Homo sapiens: one gene and its partners. The protein of the gene in region 2 purifies or fractionates together with the protein of the main gene of each other region. This does not show direct contact. Each region holds a gene or a part of one and is shown on either strand. Other genes may lie near its edges.

What was found.
Region 1: the proteins of TAOK1 (region 2) and ODF2 purify together in Homo sapiens (co-immunoprecipitation; one large-scale study listed by IntAct). This does not show direct contact.
Region 3: the proteins of TAOK1 (region 2) and KLHL36 purify together in Homo sapiens (affinity purification with mass spectrometry, with the first as the bait; one large-scale study listed by BioGRID). This does not show direct contact.

The regions. Positions count from the first base shown.
Region 1 is NC_000009.12:128,469,506-128,473,005, reverse strand, and holds part of ODF2 (outer dense fiber protein 2), read right to left. Parts: intron 1,699-3,500; coding exon 1,538-1,698; intron 94-1,537; coding exon 1-93. UniProt on the Homo sapiens protein: Seems to be a major component of sperm tail outer dense fibers (ODF).
Region 2 is NC_000017.11:29,508,823-29,512,549, reverse strand, and holds part of TAOK1 (serine/threonine-protein kinase TAO1), read right to left. Parts: intron 1,687-3,727; coding exon 1,558-1,686; intron 1-1,557. UniProt on the Homo sapiens protein: Serine/threonine-protein kinase involved in various processes such as p38/MAPK14 stress-activated MAPK cascade, DNA damage response and regulation of cytoskeleton stability. Phosphorylates MAP2K3, MAP2K6 and MARK2.
Region 3 is NC_000016.10:84,651,284-84,655,010, reverse strand, and holds part of KLHL36 (kelch-like protein 36), read right to left. Parts: intron 1-3,727.

The DNA of each region.
Region 1 (3,500 bases), on a different chromosome or scaffold from region 2:
ACCTGCTTGGCAGCCGCAGCCCCATCCATTTCCGCCTCCACCAGCTTGGACATGAGGCACTCCTTCTCCTGTTGTAGGTGTTTCTTCTGAAGTCTGGGGCCAGAAAGACGGCTCTGTGAGCCCTCCCAGGCCCCCGCATGCCCAGAGATCCAAGGCTTGCCTCACAATGCCCTAGGGGGCTCACCTCTGGTCAGGGAAAAGTAGGGGAGGGGGCAGGGACAGCCCTTCTGGCCTGGGTGGCCTTCAGAAAGGACCAGGGCCAGAAGTTACATCTGCCTGGGCACCAGACCAGGGCCTCCACACCAGGAGACATTAGCTACCTGTGGCCCTGTTTCTCTCAAACAGCCACCATTGTCATCTCTGCACTGCCCCCCTCCACTGTCACGCCCTCCTACGCACCATCTTCAGATACGATTTTGAGCCCTTCTACCTCTTCTCTACACTGCAGCCAAGGCTAGTCAGGCCACCTCCCTGCTTTTAAAACTTCCATGGCTGTAGGCTGGATACAGTGGCTAAAGCCTGTAATCCCAGCACTTTGGGAAGCCGAGGTGGGCAGATCACTTGAGATCAGGTGTTATCGAGAGCAGCCTGGCCAACAGCTAAAACCCCATCTCTACTAAAAATACAAAAGTTAGCCGGGCATGGTAGTGGGCACCTGTAATTCCAGTTACTTGGGAGGCTGAGGCAGGAGGATTACTTTAGTCAAGGAGGCGGACATTGCAGTGAGCCAGGATCACGCCACTGCACTCCAGCCTGGATGACAGAGCGAGACTCCATCTCAAAAATTTTGAGATGCCTCCCAGGATCAAGCAGTTCTCCTGCCTCAGCCTCCAGAGTAGCTAGGATTATAGGCGCCCGCCGCGACGCCCGGCTTAATTTTTGTATTTTTAGTAGAGACAGGGTTTCACCATGTTGGCCAGGCTGGTCTCGAACTCCTGACCTTGTGATTTGCCCGCCTTGGCTCCCAAAGGGCTGGGATTACAGGCGTGAGCCACCACGCCCGGCCAAATAAATTAATTAAATAAAATAAATCCTTTCCATGGCTTCCAAATGCCCTCAATGCAAATGCCTCAAAGTGGCTGCTGAGAGCCAGCCCCCTGCCAACCTATGTGGCCCCCTTATCCTCTGCCCACCCACTCTGGCCTGCCTTCCATTTCTCAGCTACAAACACTTTCCCACCTTGGGGCCTTCGCATAAGATGTTCCCACTGAGTAGCGTGCTTTCTTCCCTAGCACCCACCTGCCGAATGCTTAACCATCCTGCAGGACACCCCTTAAATATCACTTGTTCCAGAAACAGTTCCCTGCTACCCAGTCCCACACCACAATCCACGGGGTCCTCCCTTTCCCTCATAGTACAAATCATAAGCACAACCAGGTAATTAACTGTAATTAATTGTGTGACTGTTGAACAGGCTCCAGGGCACAGGCACAGTGCCTGTGCCCACCTCCTACGTTGCTTTCCATTATTGCCCAGGGCTCAAGGCAGCCTGGTAGGGAGGAATAGATCAGCGGGGACAGAGCAGGAGCCACCTTACATGGTGAAGTCCTTCTCCTCCTTCATGCGCTCGATGTTGTGCCTCAACACCGTGTTCTCGTGCTCAGTCTCAGCCAGTTCGTGGGCCACCTCCTCCAGCTCTTCCTTCCGTTCCTCCAGGAACCTTTTGGCCATCTGGCGCTCACCTTTTTGCATCTTGACCTGAGCAGGGGGACCCAGGCAGGGGCCACTGAAGGGAGGTCCTTCCTCTATGCCACATTGCTAGGCTCAATGCTTTGGACCAAAATAAGGCCCCGGCCGGGCGTGGTGGCTCACGCCTGTAATCCCAGCACTTTGGGAGGCCAAGGTGGGTAGGTCACTTTTGGTCAGGAGTTCGAGACCAGCCTGACCAACATGGTGAAACCCCATCTCTACTGAAAATACAAAAATTAGCCAGATGTGGTGGCACATGCCTGTGATCCCAGCTACTCTGGAAGCTGAAGCAAGAGAGTCGCCTGAACCCAGGAGCCAGAGGTTGCAGTGAGCCGAGATCGTGCCCACTGCACTCCAGCCTGGGCGGACAAGAGTGAGACTCCATCTCAAAAAAAAAAAAACAAAAACAAAAAAATAAGGAGCCTTCCAATTGAGAACTACACAGGCTGCATGCCAGGGCCTTATGGGTGCAATCTCAGTTAACTGCCATGAAGACTGACTCTCCTGGGAGATGCTGATTTTCTTTTTGTAGATGAGGAAACTCAGTACAGAGAGCCCCAGTGACTTGTGGGTTGGGAACGAAGCCAGGTTGCAAACCGTGGTTTGGCTGGCACACCATAGGAGGAGAGATGTCACAAAAAGGCTCTTGCACTTTGAGTTATAGGGGAAGAAGGGCTTTTTTTTTTTTTCTTTTGAAACAGGGTCTCACTCTGTCATCCAGGCTGGAGTGCAGCGGTACGATCTCAGCTCACTGCAACCTCTGCCTCCTGGGTTCAAGTGATTCTTCTGCCTCAGCCTCCCAAGTAGCCGGGATTACAGGCGTGTGCCTGGCAAATTTTTGTATTTTTAGTAGAGATGGGGTTTCACCATGTTGGCCAGGCTGGTCTTGAACTCCTGACCTCAAGTGATCTGCCCTCCTCAGTCTCCCAAAGTGCTAGGATTATAGGCATGAGCCACCACGCCTGGCCAAGAAGGGCCTATTCTAGGCAGCCAGCCCTAGGTTCTCCAGGAGGTTCCCTGGACCTCGAGTACAGGGTGGAGGATTAAAGACACAGGTCGTGTTAGCAGTGAAGACATAGGCTGACATAGCAATCCAAGTCTAAGGCCTGGATTTTAATGACAACTCTGCCAATTTCCTAGTTGGGGACCTTGGACTTCCAGGTTCTATTTCCAATTCCATTGTCACATCCCACCCCAAGAGAGAGCACGGCAACTGAGGACAAACTTCCTTGGCCTCTTTGGGGCTTTGTTTTTGTTAATTTTTTTATTTATATATATATATATATATATATATATATTTTTTTTTTTTTTTTTTTTTTTTTTTTTTTTTTTTGAGACAGAGACTCTCTCTGTCGCCCAGGCTACAGTGCAATGGCACAATCTCAGCTCACTGCAACCTCTGGCTCCTGGGTTCAAGCAATTCTACCACCTCAGCCTCCTGAGCAGCTGAGACTACAGGTGCACGCCACCACGCATGGCTAATTTTTGTTTTTTAGTAGAGACAGGGTTTCACCGTGTTGGTCAGGCTGGTCTCGAACTCCTGACCTCAGGGGATCCGCCTCCCAAAGTGCTGGGATTACAGGCGTGAGCCACCATGCCCGGCCTGTTTTTGTTAAACCTTATATAAAGCGGAAGGCATAGGCCCTAGTTTCCTAGGTATTTCATCTCTGTAATGAGGACAGTAACACCACTGGCTTCACATGCTGTTGTAAAAATTCAAATTGGACCACCCATGTGGAGCACCAGGACAGCTACATGCTCAATAGAGAGGGCCCTTGTTGGTGGGATGGGATCCCATGCTGCCCCAGCTA
Region 2 (3,727 bases):
AAATCAGCCAGGCGTGGTGGCAGTCGCCTGTAATGCCGGCTACTCAAGAGGCTGAGGCAGGAGAATCACTTGAACCCAGGCGGCAAAGGTTGCAGTGAGCCGAGATCATGCCACTGCACCCCAGCCTGGGCAACAGAGTGAGACTCCATCTCAAACCAAACCAAACCAAACAAACAAAAAGCAGCACAAGAGCCGGGAGTGGTGGCTAACTCTTGTAATCCCAGCACTTTGGGGGGCCGAGGTGGGTAGATTGTCTGAGGTCAGGAGTTTGAAACCAGCCTGGCTAACATGGTGAAACCCCGTCTCTACTAAAAAAATATATACAAATTAGCCAGGCATGGTGGCACACACCTGTAATCCCAGCTACTCGGGGGGGTTGAGGCAGGAGAATCCTTTCAACCTGGGGGGAGGGGAGGCTGCAGTGAGCCAAGATCACACCACTGCACTCCAGCCTGTATGACAGAGTGAGACTTCCGTCTCAAAAAAAAAGCGGGGGGTAGGGGGGAGGCCGGGCAGCACAAGAAAGGGCAAACAAATATGAAACCCTGTAGCCACAAAGAAATAATCAGCATATTCTACTTAAAAAAAACCTGATAAGCAAATATCTCCCTTATTCTACATTTAAATTGGCATAAAAACAAATTATTATAATCTTCTGATCCAAAAGTAAGACATTATTGTTTACTTTTAAAGTAATAAATGTGATCAGGTGCGGTGGCTTATGCCTATAATCCCAGCACTTTGGGAAGCCGAGGTAGGCGGACTGCTTGAGCCCAGGAGTTTGAGACCAGACTAGGCAACATGGCAAGACCCTGTCTCTACAAAAAATAAATTTAAAAATCAGCCAGGAGTGGTGGTGTGTGCTTGTGTTCCCAGCTACTTGGAAGGCTAAAGCAGGATTGCTTGAGCACGGGAGGTCGAAGCTGCAGTGAGCTATGATTGTGCCACTGCACTCCAGCCCGTGGAACAGAATAAGACTGTCTCAAAAAATACACACAAAAAATAAAAACATAAGGCCAGGCACGATGGCTCATGCCTGTAATCCTAGCACTTTGGGAGGCCGAGGCAGGCGGATCACAAGGTCAGGAGATCGAGACCATCCTGGCTAACATGGTGAAACCCCGTCTCTACTAAAAAAAATACCAAATGTTTGCCGGGTGTGGTGGTGGGCGCCTGTAGTCCCAGCTACTAGGGAGGCTGAGGCAGGAGAATGGTGTGAACCCAGTAGGCAGAGCTTGAAGTGAGCCGAGAGCGCGCCACTGCACTCGAGCCTGGGTGACAGAGCGAGACTCTTTGTCTCAAAAATAAATAAATAAATATAAAATAAAAACATAAAAAAAGTATATTTTCAGGAAATGATTCATTTTAAATCCTACTCAACTAAATGACTCAGTTAAGGGTAACTGATTATAATCAATGTCATCATTTAAACTAATACCCATTTAGTGACCATAAACAACAAAAGATAATTTTATCCTAATGCTTCTATGAGTTGGTCACCATTGGATATAATTAATAAGCAGAAAATTTGCTTGGAAAGTTTTATGACATAAGTACCTCTTTAAGCTGCTCTTTTCGAAGTTTATACTCTCTTTTCTGGGACTCGAGAAAACTATTCAGTTCTTTCTTCTGTTGGGCCTGAATATGTTGCTGAAATTTTTTCTCTTCATTGGACATCACTTTAGCCTATATGAAGTTTAAAAAATGAATCAAATTTAGTTAAGTAGATAAAGTAGTGGTTTAATATACATCATTAAGAATACCTTTTATTTTCTAAGAACAAGAAATCATTAGAAACATTACCAAAATAAAAGACTGAACCAAATTATAAACATGTGCTACTTGGCATCCTTATAATTTGAACTTCATAGAATCAGTAAGATGAAACTCATCTTTGAAATGTTGATCTCTTACAGGGTCAAAAATGTTGTCAACTTTTTATTTCATTTAACAGAAGTATACCTTCCTCCCAACCCTCAATCCCTCAGTAAAACAAAACAAATGCTATATTTTATTTCTGATTCTATATGCAATACATGTTCATTGTAGAATATTTACAAAATACAGAAAAACAAGAAACATCTTACATAATTTTGGCATCCAGAGATAACCAATGTAAACATTTTGGTGCATATCTTTTGCAATTTTTTCTTTTTTTAAAATTATTATTTTTGAGATGGAGTCTTGCTCTGTTACCCTGGCTGCAGTGCAGTGGCACGAGCTCGGCTCACTGCAACCTCCGCTTCCCGGGTTCAAGTGATTCTCCTGCCTCAGCCTCCCAAGTAGCTGTGACTACGGGTGTGTGACACCACGCCTGGCTAATTTTTGTATTTTTAGAAGAGATGGGGTTTTGCCATGTTGGCCAAGCTGGTCTTGAACTCCTGAGCTCAGGTGATCCACCCACCTCGGCCTCCCAAAGTGCTGGGATTACAGGCGTGAGCCACCATGCCCGGCCTCTAATTTTTTCTATAAATGTTCATGTCTCAAACACACACACATACACATACACACATATATTTGCATGTATATAATTAAGTAGGTATTGTGGCTCATACCTGTAATCCCAACACTTTGAGAGGCTGAGGTGGGAGGATCACCTGAGCCCAGGAGTTCAAGACCAGCTGGGTAACAGGGCGAGTGCCTGTCTCAAAAAATATGTTACAGGGTCTCACTCTGTCACCCAGGCTGGAGTGCAGTGGTACAATCATGGCTCATTGCAGCCTCCTCCTGAGCTCAAGTGATCTTCCCACCTCAGCCTCCTGAGTAGCTGGAACTAAAGGCGTATGCCACCCTGCTCAGCTAATTTATTTTTTTTGTGTGTGGAGACAGAGTCTTCCCATGTTGCCCAGGCTGGTCTTGAACTCCTGGGCTCAAGTAATCTTCTCACCTCGGCCTCCCAAAGTGGTGGGATTACAGGTGTGAGCCACTGCACCCATCCTGGTTATATACTTTTAAAACAAATTTGTTACCACATTGCATATCTGCTTCAGGAATTGTTTTCCTAAATATGTTAGTATCGCCTTTTCCCAAGCTATTAAAAATAATATCTATCAAGTGTGGTGGCTCACATCTATAATCCCAGCACTTTGGGAGGCCGAGGCAGGAAGGTCACCTGAGGTCAGGGATTTGAGACCAGCCTGATTAACATGGTGAAACCCCTTTTCTACTAAAATAAAAATAATACAAAAATTAGCCAGGCATGGTAGATGAAAAATTAGCCAGGCATGGTAGATGCACCTGTAGTCTCAGCTACTTGGGAGGCTGAGGCAGGAGAATTGTTTGAACTTGGAGAGCAGAGGTTGCAGTGAGCTGAGATCACACCACTGCACTCCAGCCTGGGCGACAGAGGGAGATTCTGTCTCAAAAAATAATAAAAATAAAATAAAAAATAAAAAAATGAAAATATCCAATGCCCAGAGGATTTTAAATATGTATACATTGTTTCATCAAATTATTTCAAAATCAAGTATGTATTTATACTATAAATTATTTTGTCAGGGTCCCTACTACTATAAGAATGTTCTTTTTTTGTGAAAAGGGAGAAGAGGGTAGCTATGATAAATAATGCCTCACTGCAGACTACCTGGACATATTTTAATGATATTGTGTGAATTTACTGAGAAGTCTACATTCTACTTGACAAACATGGCTATCAAAAAAAGTAAAACAATGGGACACCAAAAACATTAGAAGAAAAGGTTTCACATAACAAAAATCCTAAAAACTA
Region 3 (3,727 bases), on a different chromosome or scaffold from region 2:
TTAAATTTTTTCTCATTTTTAGAAACAGGGTCTTGCTCTGTTTCCCAGGCTGGCATGCAACAGTAGATCAGAGATCACTGCGGCCTGAAACTCCTAGGCTCAGCCGGGCGTGGTGGCTCATGCCTGGAATCCCAGTACTTTGGGAGGCCGAGGTGGGCAGGTCACCTGAGGTCAGGAGTTCGAGACCAGCCTGACCAACATGGTGAAACCCCGTCTCTAGTAAAAATACAAAATTAGCTGGTTGTGGTGGCGGGCGCCTGTCATCCTAGCTACTCAGGAGGCTGACGCAGGAGAATCACTTGCACTCCGGAGGCGGAGGTTGCAGTGAGCCACTGCACTCCAGCCTGGGCAACACGAACAAAACGCCATCTCAAAAACAAAACAAAACAAAACAAAACAAAACAAAACAAAACAAAACAAAACAAAACAAAACTAGTCTCAAGCAATCCCTCCACTTCAGCTTCCTTGGCAGCTGGGACTACAGGTGTGTGCCACCATATCCAGCTATTTTTTACTTTTATTTTTTGTAGAAATGGGGTCTCACTACATTGCCCAGGCTGGTCTTCAGCTCCTGAGTTCAAACGATCCTCCTGCCTCAGCCTCCCAATGTGCTGGGATTACAGGTATAAGCCACCGTGCTAGGCCTCAGCTTCTAATTATGCAGGAATGGTCAGTGCTTCTACAGACATTGACTGGAGGCCCCTCTTGGGTGTGAGCTGAAGGAAGGAAATTAAAAAGTACTACAGTGGCGGTGATCAAGTCATAGTACAGGCTTAGCGGCCTGAGAGACGCATATGAGGGCATGAGGCGGCTATCTGCCACCCGGGGACCCTGGCTGTCTCCACGCTGGTGAGGGTGCTGGCCCTACCATGCTTAGACGGAGATACACACAACCCCAGACTGCAGTGTCAAAAGGGAAAGAGCCCAGGGGGCAGGACTGGGGAAAGCCCCAGTGAACGGCTGCCGAGGGGAGACACCAGCTCCAGTGAGCTGGGGCAGGGGGCAAGAGCAGTGTTGTTTCCAAAACTGGGTTTCTGCTCTAAGTGGGCTGGAGTGATGCTGTACCCGGGTACAATCAGCTGCAATCTGCTTCTGGTGTTTTAGCACAGCTGCATAGACAACTTTCCAAAAACACAGGCACACGAGTTCCCTTTTTTTTTTTTTTTTTTTGGATACAGAGCCTCCCTCTGTTGCCCAGGCTGGAGTGCAGTGGCTCGATCTCGGCTCACTGCAACCTCCGCCTCCCAGGTTCAGGCGATTCTCCTGCCTCAGCCTCCTGAGTAGCTGGGACTACCGGCATGTACCACCATGCCCAGCTAATTTTGTCTTTTTAGTAGAGACAGGGTTTTGCCATTTTGGCCAGGCTGGTCTTAAACTCCTGACCTCAGGTGCCACCACTCCCGGCATATATACATATATCAGTAGAGACGGGGTTTCACCATGTTGGCCTCGAACTCCTGACTTCAAGTGATCCATCCACCTCAGCCTCCCAAAGTTCTAGGATTCCAGGCGTGAGCCACTGCGCCTGGCCTATTTCCCAATTATAAAGGGACATTGGTAACAGAGTTTCCGCATTTCAGGTAACTTAGAAGCTCCAATCCACAGCATTCTCTGATGATATGAGTCTTGTTCATTTCTTTATTTCCTATTTCAGTGCCTTAATCAGATGCAAGGCCAAGTAGAGGGAGAAACTCAGGTTGTCGGGGGCTTACACCTGGGAGGAGGCGGCAGGTACCAGGTATTAGACGTGGAAAAAGAATTTAGCATCAAAAAGGAACAACACTTTTTTTTTTTGAGACAGGGTCTCGCTCTGTCACTTAGGTTGGAGTACAGTGGTGCGATCATAGCTCACTGCAACCTCTACCTCCTGGGCTCAAGTGAGCCTCCCACCTCGGCCTCCTGAGGAGCTGGGACTACAGGTGTATGCCACCAGGCTCGGCTAATTTTTGTATCTTTTGTAGAGATGAGGTTTAGCCGTGTTGTCCAAGCTGGTCTCAAACTCCGAGCTTACGAGATCCTCCCGCCTCGGCCTCCCAGGGTGCTGGGATTACAGGCGTGAGCCACTGTGCCTGGCTGAGCAACACATCTTAGGGCAGACAGGTGAACAGACACTGTGGCCACACAGTGGGAAGACACCAACATGCTGAGAAAGCAAAACCTACCACTACCAACTACATGCAGCAACACGGGTGAGGCTCAGAGGCACAATGTTGCACAAAAGAAACCACACACAAGAGTACCCGACCTCGGATCCCGTTTAGACAAAGTTCAAAAGCAGATCAAACCACAGCGGTGGGGTTGGGACAGCGACTATCTTGAGTGTAACAACTGGGAGGGTTTGGTAGTATTCTGTTTTTTACCCATCTGGGTGCTGGCAACATAGGTGTGTTTAATGTCTAGAAATTAATGGGTACACTTTTTAAAAATAAAAAGTTAGAAACAGGCCAGTCATGGTGGCTCGCGCCTGTAATCCCAGCACTTTGGGAGGCCAAGGCTGGCGGGTCACGAGGTCAAGAGATCAAGACCATCCTGGCCAACATGGTGAAACCCCGTCTCTACTAAAAATACAAAAATTAGCTGGGCATGGTGGCATGCACCTGTATTCCCAGCTCCTCAGGAGGCTGAGGTGGGAGGCTCACTTGAGCCCAGGAGGTAGAGGCTGCAGTGAGCTATGATCGCACCACTGTACTCCAACCTAAGTGACAGAGCAAGACCCTGTCTCGAAAAAAAAAAAAAGTTAGAAACATCATCCAGTGATACAGAAGCCTAGTCCTAAGAGATTCAGTTCAGACAGAAACAAACTCAGGGTCCTGGCATTAATGGACAAAGACTTCCAGTGCTGTCAAACTTAGAAAGCAGCAGTGTCTCCCAAGCTAAGCTCCCAAACAAAGCCCTTGTGAGCGAGCGGCGAGACCTCTCTGGGTTTTCACAATCGATAAAGCTGGGCTTGGCAGGAACCTTCTTGGGGAACTCACGTGAGAACAGGAGGTCATATCTCAAGAGAGCCAACCTCTCTTGAAAATGACAGCCAGTTTTTCTTTTAGAATCTGTAGAATCTCTTTCCCCCTTTTTCTCAACTCTATAGGCTGCTGCCAGCTCCCTTCATCTAAAGAAGTGTTTCTGTATCTTTTTTCATTATTGCCCCACAAGAAGGCTTTTAAGATTTTTTTCCCTAATAGCCTCCCCAGCAAAATCTTAACATCACAGATGCACTGTATGTCTGCTCATGTACTGTATGTATAATTGTGTCTTATGCATAAAAGGAGTAAAATTCCTTCCACCCTCCCGAGAACCAATTTTCTCCCACTTCAGGGCAATATCATACTCATTGAGAATCCATGATCTGAGGTAACCATAAGATTTAATCTCCAAAAGGGATACCTCTAAAGAACAGAGGGCATTACGAATATTTATAACGGGGAAACAGGTTACCAGGAACCTCATACCAATGGCTCCCCCACTCTTTACCAACAGCAGCTGTGGGGACAGGAGTTTGTGGAAAGTATAGCAGCCGGGTCTGGCTCTTGGATTTTAATGTGGCTGGTGGGAACAGGCTACATATTTCTAATTAGAACTCCCCCAGTAGCCTGGCTCTGGGGAACTTGCCCTCACTTGCTCTTAGGTCGCAGGGAATCATGACCAGGGAAGACGACTCCAGGCCCTTGGGGTCCGGGTACACGGTGTGTTGCCCTCACCCTAAGGTAGAAGGCTGGGTTCTCAATGGACC